Linked DNA regions of Homo sapiens: region 2 is linked to region 1. The links come from fine-mapping of genetic effects on gene expression. A gene starts in region 1. The other region holds a variant in brackets. All regions are shown on one strand. Distances are from middle to middle.

Region 1 (4,380 bases):
TCCCTCCCCCATGACACCAATCTCCTCTGGGCCAGGCTCCACTAAAAAGGTGGTATTCACCCTCCTCCCACCCCCAGTACAGACAAGGAGTCCCAGCTCAGAGCAGGGCAATGACTAACCCAGACTCCACGCCCGCTAGGCTGAATGAGCCTCTCCCTATGAGGAATATCCACATACCCAGAAACTCACCTTGCAGCTTAGCCAAGATATATTCAAAACCCTTCATAGTCTTGGTCACGTTGCTTTTGAATCGGGCAAGACCAAATTCCTGGCATGAGATGAGAATGGGAAGGATACTGAGTTGCCCACTGACCCCAGCCCAGCCCCAACACCGAAAGCACTGGGTCCCAGAGCCCCAGCAGCCCCAACAACACTGCTCACCTGGACAGCTCTGGAGACACCAAATAAGCTAGAGGAGACCCAGGCTTCCCGGCGGATTTCAGTCCAGCCACTGTTGTCAGAGTTCACACAGTAAACACATCGTTCCTCCACCACCTATGCAGAGGCCAACCACAATCGTGGAACAGTCTTTCATTTTGCCAACTTGCACATAAATCTGACTCCCTGTCACTTTTCATGAGGCGAAGCAATACAATGAAAATCCATTCCTTCCCCTGACTGCACCTCCAAGTGGCACTGACAGAACAAGAAGCCATAAATAAGGTCGTTTTGCTCTCGAAAACCTCTCTTCTGACTCTTAAACTAGAAGGCAAAAGGTCTCTCTCTTGAGATCAACAAAGGGCCTTCCAGCCCATCCTGCTCCTGGATTTTGTTTTGTGCATCTAGACGCATGCAGTGTTTTAGCCGCCTTCCACCAGCTGCAGCTCTGGAGCTTCCTGACAGTCCAAATAAAAACATTTGCCCGGCGCGGTGGCTCACGCCTGTAATCTTAGCACTTTGGGAGGCCGAGGCGGGCGGATCACTTGAGGTTAGGAGTTCGAGACCAGCCTGGCCAACATGGTAAAACCTTGTCTGTACTAAAAATACAAAAATTAGCCAGGCGTGGTGGTGTGTGCTTAGAAATCCACCTCTTCAGAAGGCTGAGGCACGAGAATTGCTTAAACCCAGGAGGTGGCAGTGGCAGTGAGGTGAGATCATGTCACTACACTCCAACCTGGGTGAGACTCTTGTCACCAGAAAAAAACAAAAAACAGAAAAAAAAAAAAGAAAAGCACTGCCTCCGCCACTCAGCATCACTCCTGTGAGTCCAACATATATCTGTGCCATAGATGCCAGATGGGAGCGCTTTGCATTTAGAACTTAGGACAACTCCGTAAGATAGGTACCCCTCCCCCACTGTATGAATGAGTCAAAGGACAGGTCCAGAGAGGATGGCCAGCTGAAAAGAAGAAAACCTGAGGTCATACTCTACAGCTGTCAACCCTCAGTAACCCAGACCTGCCTCCGGCCACAAAAGCTGCCTTATGGCTCTCTAGCCACATGTATCTGAGGAGCTCTCTATCTCGGGGGGAGGGGAGAGGGGGAGGTGCAGAATCACAACAGGAGGTGTCTCACCATCAGCCGGGCGTGGTTGATGTTCCAGGTGAAGGTAGTCATGGTCTGATTCTGTGGGTCCACAATAGAGTCCTCCAGGACGTACACCGAGTGAGCAACATTGGCAGGAAATAGTCGCTCGGCCCAGCGTGGCATCCTGTTGGTCTTGGTCAGGAGTCGCCGGGACAGCAGTTTCTGGTCAGGGGTCACCTCCCGGTGTACTATGTCTTCCGTCAAGACATGTTTGCTGCAGGTGTCAGGGTGAAGGTGACCCTCAGAAGCTTGCCCCTAAGAGACTGCCCGAGGGGATTCCCATTTGGAGGCTCCGGGCCTAGAGAGGCCACGCCTTCCCGTAACCTTGCAGGGTGGTATGTGCTATGGTTCAAACCAGAGTTAAGGGCCCATCCCAGGGCAAATTCCCACTCCCGCCATCTGACTGACCTGGATTCCTGCCTTCTAGCAGGAATGGACCTCATGATTTATTGCACCCCAGGAAAGCGCCACGGGCAGAGAAATAGGATTTCCAACTCCAAGATCCCTCCCAACTCCCATACTGCCGCCTCTTCTTGTCTCACCACACTGAGAAAAGAATCTTACACTAAGGTCTCAAGTAAACCACCACCCAGGCCCAACCTCCCTTCAGGACCTTGCAGGCCTGGCCTGGCCGCTTCCCCGATAAGGTCTACCTAGGATTCGATATCGAGTCCTTCCTGGTCCCAGTACTTGGGGGTTACCCATAATTCGATCTCCAGATAGCGAGATGGCGCGGTTTTGCTCTTCCAAATACCACGTACCTATAGGGATTCGGGTACCGCTGCCAGAAGGCGGCGAACACTTGGTCCCAGGAACTCCGGAGCACGCTCTGGCCCAGGAAATACTTCACCATCGTCCCGGCCGAAGCGGGCTCAGCACCCGCGCAGCATCAGGGGTGCGGAGCCTGGGAGGCACGCGAGGGCCGGGCCGGGCCGGGGCTCGGCGCACACCCGCCGCCAGGCTCGTAGCTCAGTCACCACCGCACCGCGCCCAAGCAGCTGCCGCCGCCGCCGCCGCCGCCATGAGTTGTCCGGCCGCGCGCCACTTCCGGCGCAGCCACACAGTAGCCACCGCTTCCGGCGCCCGCGCCACGTGACCTTGCGGCCCCGCCCCCTCGCCCTCTAGCCCCCTCCCGCGGGAGTCGCGGCGCTGCGGGTAGGAGCCGGGTTGCGGGAGACCCCAGGTTCGGTTGGGATTCCCAGCCAGAACGGAGCTTAAGCCGGGCAGGCGAGCGAATGACGGAGTAGCGAGCTGCACGGCGGCGTGCTGCGCTGTTGAGGACGCTGTCCCGCGCGCTCCCAGGCCGCCCCGAGGCTTGGGGTCTTCGAAGGATAATCGGCGCCCGGGGCCGAACAGCGGGGGCACACGGGGCGCTGCCGAAGTGCAAGGCCACGGCCAGAGCTCGAGCCCGACGCGCTGTCTGGAGTCGTAGGTTGGCGCCGTTTGGGGTCGGGGTCTGAGGCTTGGGCGCTGCCTGGGCCGAGCGGAGATCGGGGTTTGCCTCCCGTCCCCGCTCAGGACCCTGACGTGGCTGAAGCGGCCCCGGGAGCATGAGCGGGCAGCGCGTGGACGTCAAGGTGGTGATGCTGGGCAAGGAGTACGTGGGCAAGACTAGCCTGGTGGAGCGCTACGTGCACGACCGCTTTCTGGTGGGGCCTTATCAGAACGTGAGTGCATCCGGAGGGGCCAGGCACGGTGGGCGGGGGAGTGGGGGGCCGGTAATCTGCACCTATGGCCCCGATCTCTTCCCTCTCGTTGCAGACCATCGGGGCCGCCTTCGTGGCCAAGGTGATGTCGGTCGGAGACCGGACTGTGACATTAGGTATTTGGGTAAGTCCCCCGGCCATCTATTCTTGGGAGACTCATTCCTGAGGAGGTGTAGGTCCTGCCTATTACTGGTTGATTTGTGGCCTCACAGACCCATTTCTCATAGACCCGTTTCCTTATCTGGAAAATAGCGGGGTCTGGAGAACGTGGCCTTAAGTTTGACTCAGGCCTTACTCTTTAGGACACAGCAGGCTCTGAGCGCTATGAGGCCATGAGTAGAATCTACTATCGGGGTGCCAAGGCTGCCATCGTCTGCTATGGTAAGGGGGGGGGGGGTTTGGGCTGTCTCACAAGAAAAGATGGGTGCCAGGCTAGCCAGAGAACAGCCCTTGACCACTTGGTTGTCTCCTGCATGCCGCACACCAAGACCTCACAGACAGCAGCAGCTTTGAGCGAGCAAAGTTCTGGGTGAAGGAACTGCGCAGCCTAGAGGAGGTAGGTGAACAGACCTCACTAGAACACTAGGGGCTGGGGTTTTGTTGGCCTGTGGAGGTGACCCTTGTCTTCTGCCTCAGGGCTGCCAAATCTACTTATGTGGCACCAAGAGTGACCTGCTGGAAGAAGACCGGAGGCGTCGACGTGTGGACTTCCACGACGTCCAGGACTATGCAGACAGTAGCTGCTCCTCAGCCCTTTGGGGGGTGGGGGTGTGTGGCTGTCTGGGTGGATCAAAGAAAATAGGGACTGCCTTGGCTGCCAGGGCAAGGTGCTCTAGGAGGTCTTCCTGGCCTCCTTGAACTGTGGGGTCCAGGAGACTCCCTGAACTGCTAGCCCTCCCTTTTGTCTGTTTATCTAATTCTCAGGTATGAGGCTTTAGTCACTTCTCTTTACAGATATCAAAGCTCAGCTCTTTGAAACATCCAGCAAGACAGGCCAGAGTGTGGGTGAGTGCTGTGCTGGAGCCTCACAGCAGGAACATGCAGGGGCACCAGAGGAAGCTGAATAGGGCACAGAGGGCTGGGTCACTGGGAGATCCCAGGGCTACTGGCATTGGGCCCTCGCTGATCATCATTTTTCCTGCCAGAC
Region 2 (4,380 bases), 25 kb before region 1:
CTGACGGGGAACTCCGGGGGGCTCTGGGATGATGTGCAAGGGGCTGGAGGATGGTGGGGGTGGTTGTGGCAGTCCCTTTGGGGCACCTCAGGGGACAAAGATGATAACGGGGAGTGGAGGAAAGGCAGCAGCTGAAGGCATGGCACCACCCCCGGCAGCTTCCATAATCGTCGCCCCCAGCTGTGGCTGCCTCCACCTCGCGCCGTGGAGCAGCATGTCCCGTCCCGTCCCAAGCCACCCCTCTGGCTCTGATCCCAACTCTAGCCCTCCTTGGACACCTTGCTGAGCCGATGATCTTGTCTTCCTCGTCCCCTTCCCACTCCCCGTTCAGTTGCATTTGAATCTCCCACCTTAGAAGCCAGCCGTCCCTCCTTTCAGCAGCCAGGCTTTTGGTAATTAACACTATCAAACAGATTATCATTGCAAAAAATATAGAGAGACATGAGTGAGAGTAAGGACTTTACCCTCTGTCTCTCATTCTCCAGAGCTCTTCACTGGTCCACTGTCACCCGCCTCTCGTGTCCTCTGTGTTTCCTCCTTCAACAGGTTAGACGTCTAGAGATTCCACACAGTGACTGAGAGGTTCGAGTTTGTGCTGCTTTCACGGGTTTGGGAGCCTGTTCGTGAAGCCTGAAGAGTAATCATGATCCTCCTTATTGAAGTATTTTATTAACACTTTTCCCAAAGCAGTTCCTTTCCTTGAAAAGGTAGCAGATCGTGTGTTTATGACAGGCCCTGCTTCGGAGCGATTGAGGCACATAACTCATTTCATCCACGACGCTCACCTGTCAGGTGCTGGAGGGCTTTAGGCCAGGTGTGTAGAGCCGAGGCCCAGAGACGAGCTCTCCACGGCTGCTACAATCACGTCATCGGCACCACGCTCACCAGGCTTCACCTTTAATTTTTGGCTCTAAATTGGTCTTCACCGAATTCCTGAATTACTAGGCCAATTAGTGTCCCATACTAGATGGTTCTCAGCCTTGGCTGTGTATTGGAGTTCCCTGGAGAACTGAGAAGAGCCTGCCTTCTTCTCCAGTTCTGGCTGAGTGTGTCAGGTGGAGCTGGGGCAAGGGTGGCTTCAAAAGCCCCTGCAGTGGTTTTAACAGGTACCCAAGCTTGAGCACAAGACGGAGTTAGGGCCCATGCTGTGGCAGCAGGTGTTAAAGGTCCCACGCTGTGGCAGCAGGTGTTAAAGGTCCCACGCTGTGGCAGCAGGTGTTAAAGGTCCCATGCTGTGGCAGCAGGGGTTAAAGTGATCGTGCCGGTCTCTACTTGGCTGTCACGGTGGGCACCCCTTTCCATTGGAACATAGCCTTGTTGTACCTAAGAAAAGTTGATTGTTTCAAAATTCATACCTAGAGGTGCTTCCCTAGAACGATCGATGTGTATTCTGACATCCGCATTTCACACACGCAGGACCGTGATGCCATAGTCTATGTTTTTGCCATGTGTGTCTAAAAATTTGAGGTATTTCATCATACAAAAGTTAAACGTGAATGTGTGGCTATGGACCTGCCGTGCGACGTGAGAAATATCACGGACGCACTTGGATCCCTCTGTCTCCTCCTGCCAAAGGTGATTGCTGCAGGATCTGACTTTTTGTGTCTGTCTGAAAATTTTTACCACAGGGATATGTATCTCTACATACATTGTATTGTTTTGAATTTCTGAAGACTAAGTGGTACATGGACGTATTCCTCAACTTTTGCAATTCAGCATGGTTGGTGAGTCTTTGGATTACATGTGGCTCAAGATGGGTGTTTCTCACTGTGAGGTATGAACAGACTCCAGTTTCTCCATTCTGCTGCTGATTGGAGGTGGTTTAGGGCTTTTGCTCTGCTACATGATACTGCTCTAAGCACTCCTGGATGTGTCTTATTTATTTATTTATTTATTTATTTATTTTTGAGACAGAGTCTTAAACTCTGTTGCCCAGGCTGGAGTGCAGTGGCACAGTCTTGGCTCACTGCAACCTCTGCTTCCTGGGTTCAAGCGATTCTCCTGCCTCAGCCTCCCGAGTAGCTGGGACTACAGGTGTGCACCACCATGCCTGGCTAATTTTTGTATTTTTAGTAGAGAAAGGGTTTCATCACGTTGGCCAGGCTGGTCTCGAACTCCTGACCTCAAGTGATCCACCCGTCTCAGCTTCCCAAACTGCTGGGATTACA[G/A]GCGTGAGCCACCGCACCCAGCCCATTTTCAGTTTTACTAGAGGGTGCCTCGCTGCTCTCCAAATCGGGCCGTGACCACAGTGGGGTGGCACCTGCCGAGATCCCCTCTGTCCCTCAGCACCTGATATAGTCAGAGCTTTCCATTTTTGACAGGTGGATGCAAAAGCTTTCGTTTGTTTCTCTGCTAGCCATGTTGGGATGTGTGTGCGTTTATTGGCATCTGTGTTTCTGTGTGGTGGTTTAGTCCGGGCCCTTTCTTCCGGCCGTGTAGGAGTGCCTGTGCGGGGCTCCTCTGGTGATATGCCCTTGGCGCATACCTTCCAGTGTGCCTGGGGGCTTTTGCTTTTCAATGACGTCATTTGATATACAGCCTATAATTTAGTGTGATTTCATAATCTATTCTAAAGATTTTGTTTTTGCTTAAAAGCTTTAAAATTTTGCTTTTCAAATTTGGCATTTAATCGAAGTGGAGTTAAGCTGGCGTAGGGTGTGATGTAGGGAATCCATTTTTCCAATTGTCTCCAGCCAGTTCCAGCACCATTTACCGACCCCTGGGTCCTTCTGCACCCTCTGAGGCGCACACTCAGGTGGCCACGCCACATCTGCTCCTAACCCTGCCCCTCAGCTTCCTCCCCTCTCGGGCTGGAAGGCTATATACTTGGCTGAGCTCCCGGCTCCTTCCAGCTAGGGCGGCCGTGTGCCCACTGCGGCTGGTCAGATGCCCGAGCCTGCCGACGAGGGCCTCCAGTTCCTCTGGGTTTCCCCAGGTGAGGAGATCTAACAGCAGCTGGTGTGGCCGGGCCCGCTCCCGTCTTCCTGTCTGGAATGTGGAAGGGACCCCTGGCATGCAGAACCCCCCGTGTGACCACAAGGGCTGAGTGGAGCACCCGGAGCCTGGTGGAGGGAGAGTCCTTGGCGTGGCTGAGGTGCTGCCCAGCCCGGACTGCCAGCTGCAGGGGTTTTATGTTAAAAAAAAAAATGCCTATTTGTTCAAACTACTGTGAGTCATGTTTTCTGTTCTTTTGTGGCTAAAAGCAGCCCTGCCTTTATCCCCTCCGTGTGGTGAGTTTTCTGACATGTATAGGTCTGCTCCAGACTGCCGCTGATGGTCACAGTCCATTCTGTGCCACACACGGCATTAGGCACTGGGGATACAACAGAGGACAAAAGGGACAAAGATCTCTGTCCCCATGGAGCTCATAGTCTAGTGGAGAGATCGGGTGAAATAAGTATGTTACATAGTGCTTACATTGGTTTCCTAGGGCTGCCATAAAGGACCACAAACTGAGGGGCTTGAACAACAGAAAGTGATTGGCTCTCAGTTCTAGAGGCCGGAAGTCTCAAGTCAGGGTGTTGGCAGAGCTGCGCTGTCTCTGATGGCTGTAGAGGAGAGCCCTTCCCTTCCTGTTCCCGGCTTCTGGCCATTCTCAGCAGACGTGGGAGTTCCTTGGCTCGTAGACACACCACTCCAGTCTCCGATTCCATCATAACGTGGCCATCTTCAGATCATCTTTCCTCTGTATGTCTCCATAGCTCCAGTTTTTTCTTTTCTTACTTTTTTTTTTTTTAATAGAAATGGGGTCTTGCCATGCTGCCCAGGTTGATCTTGGAACTCCTGGGCTCAAGCGATCCACCCGCCTTGGCCTCCTAAAGTGCTGGGATTACAGGCATGAGTTACTGCGCCCGGCCCAAATTTTCTGTTTTTTGTTTTGTTTTTTTTGTTTTTCAAGACGGAGTCTTGCTCTGTCACCTGGGCTGGAGTGCAGTGACCTGATCTTAGCTCACTGCAACCTCCACCTCCTGGGTTCAAGCAATTCTTCTGCCTCAGCCTCCCGAGTAGCTGGGATTACAGGCATGCACCACCAGGATCGGCTAATTTTTTGTATTTTTAGTTGAGACGGGGTTTCTCCGTGTTGGTCAGGCTGGTCTCGAACTCCCAACCTCAGGTGATCTGCCTGCCTCGGCCTCCCAAAGTGCTGGGATTACAGGCACGAGCTACCATGCCTGGCCTAAGTTTTTAAACTTCTGTAGAAACAGGGTCTCACTGTGTTGCCCAGGTTCAAGCAATCCTCCTGAAGTGCAGGGATTACAGGCATGAGTGGCTGTGTCCAGCCTTTTTCTTTCTTTCTTTCTTTCTTTCTTTCTTTCTTTTCTTTCTTTCTTTCTTTCTTTCTTTCTTTCTTTCTTTCTTTCTTTCTTTCTTTCTTTCTTT

Direction of the effects. Positions count from the first base shown, and alleles are read on the strand shown. Sizes are in standard deviations (SD) of each study's normalised expression.
As copies of A replace G in region 2, the expression in sigmoid colon of the gene that starts at base 2,647 in region 1 goes up (small effect, 0.35 SD a copy in GTEx).

What was found. PIP is the estimated chance that this variant, and not a neighbour inherited with it, causes the effect. A credible set is the group of variants that fine-mapping cannot tell apart.
Region 2: its variant is the best candidate, but not a certain one, in a credible set for the expression of RAB24 in sigmoid colon (GTEx, PIP 0.84).

The regions. Positions count from the first base shown.
Region 1 is chr5:177,301,986-177,306,365 of GRCh38, reverse strand. RAB24 (RAB24, member RAS oncogene family) reads left to right here and starts at 2,647. Exons shown (of 8, transcript NM_001031677.4): 1 at 2,647-3,194; 2 at 3,289-3,357; 3 at 3,536-3,614; 4 at 3,722-3,789; 5 at 3,870-3,969; 6 at 4,188-4,238; 7 at 4,379-4,380. The coding sequence starts at 3,078. It overlaps PRELID1 (PRELI domain containing 1), which reads right to left and starts at 2,567. Exons shown (of 5, transcript NM_013237.4): 1 at 2,289-2,567; 2 at 1,516-1,741; 3 at 382-495; 4 at 190-268. The coding sequence starts at 2,380. It also overlaps a transcript of MXD3 not described here. RefSeq lists enhancers at 1,437-1,506, 1,517-1,586, 1,737-1,796, 1,817-1,866, 1,977-2,076 and 2 more and silencers at 2,307-2,446, 2,557-2,636, 2,687-2,756.
Region 2 is chr5:177,326,876-177,331,255 of GRCh38, reverse strand. No RefSeq gene overlaps it. Among named protein-coding and RNA genes, the nearest start is that of MXD3, 17 kb to the right of the region's middle. RefSeq lists an enhancer at 4,177-4,380. The variant G/A (reference allele first, on the strand shown) is at 2,169.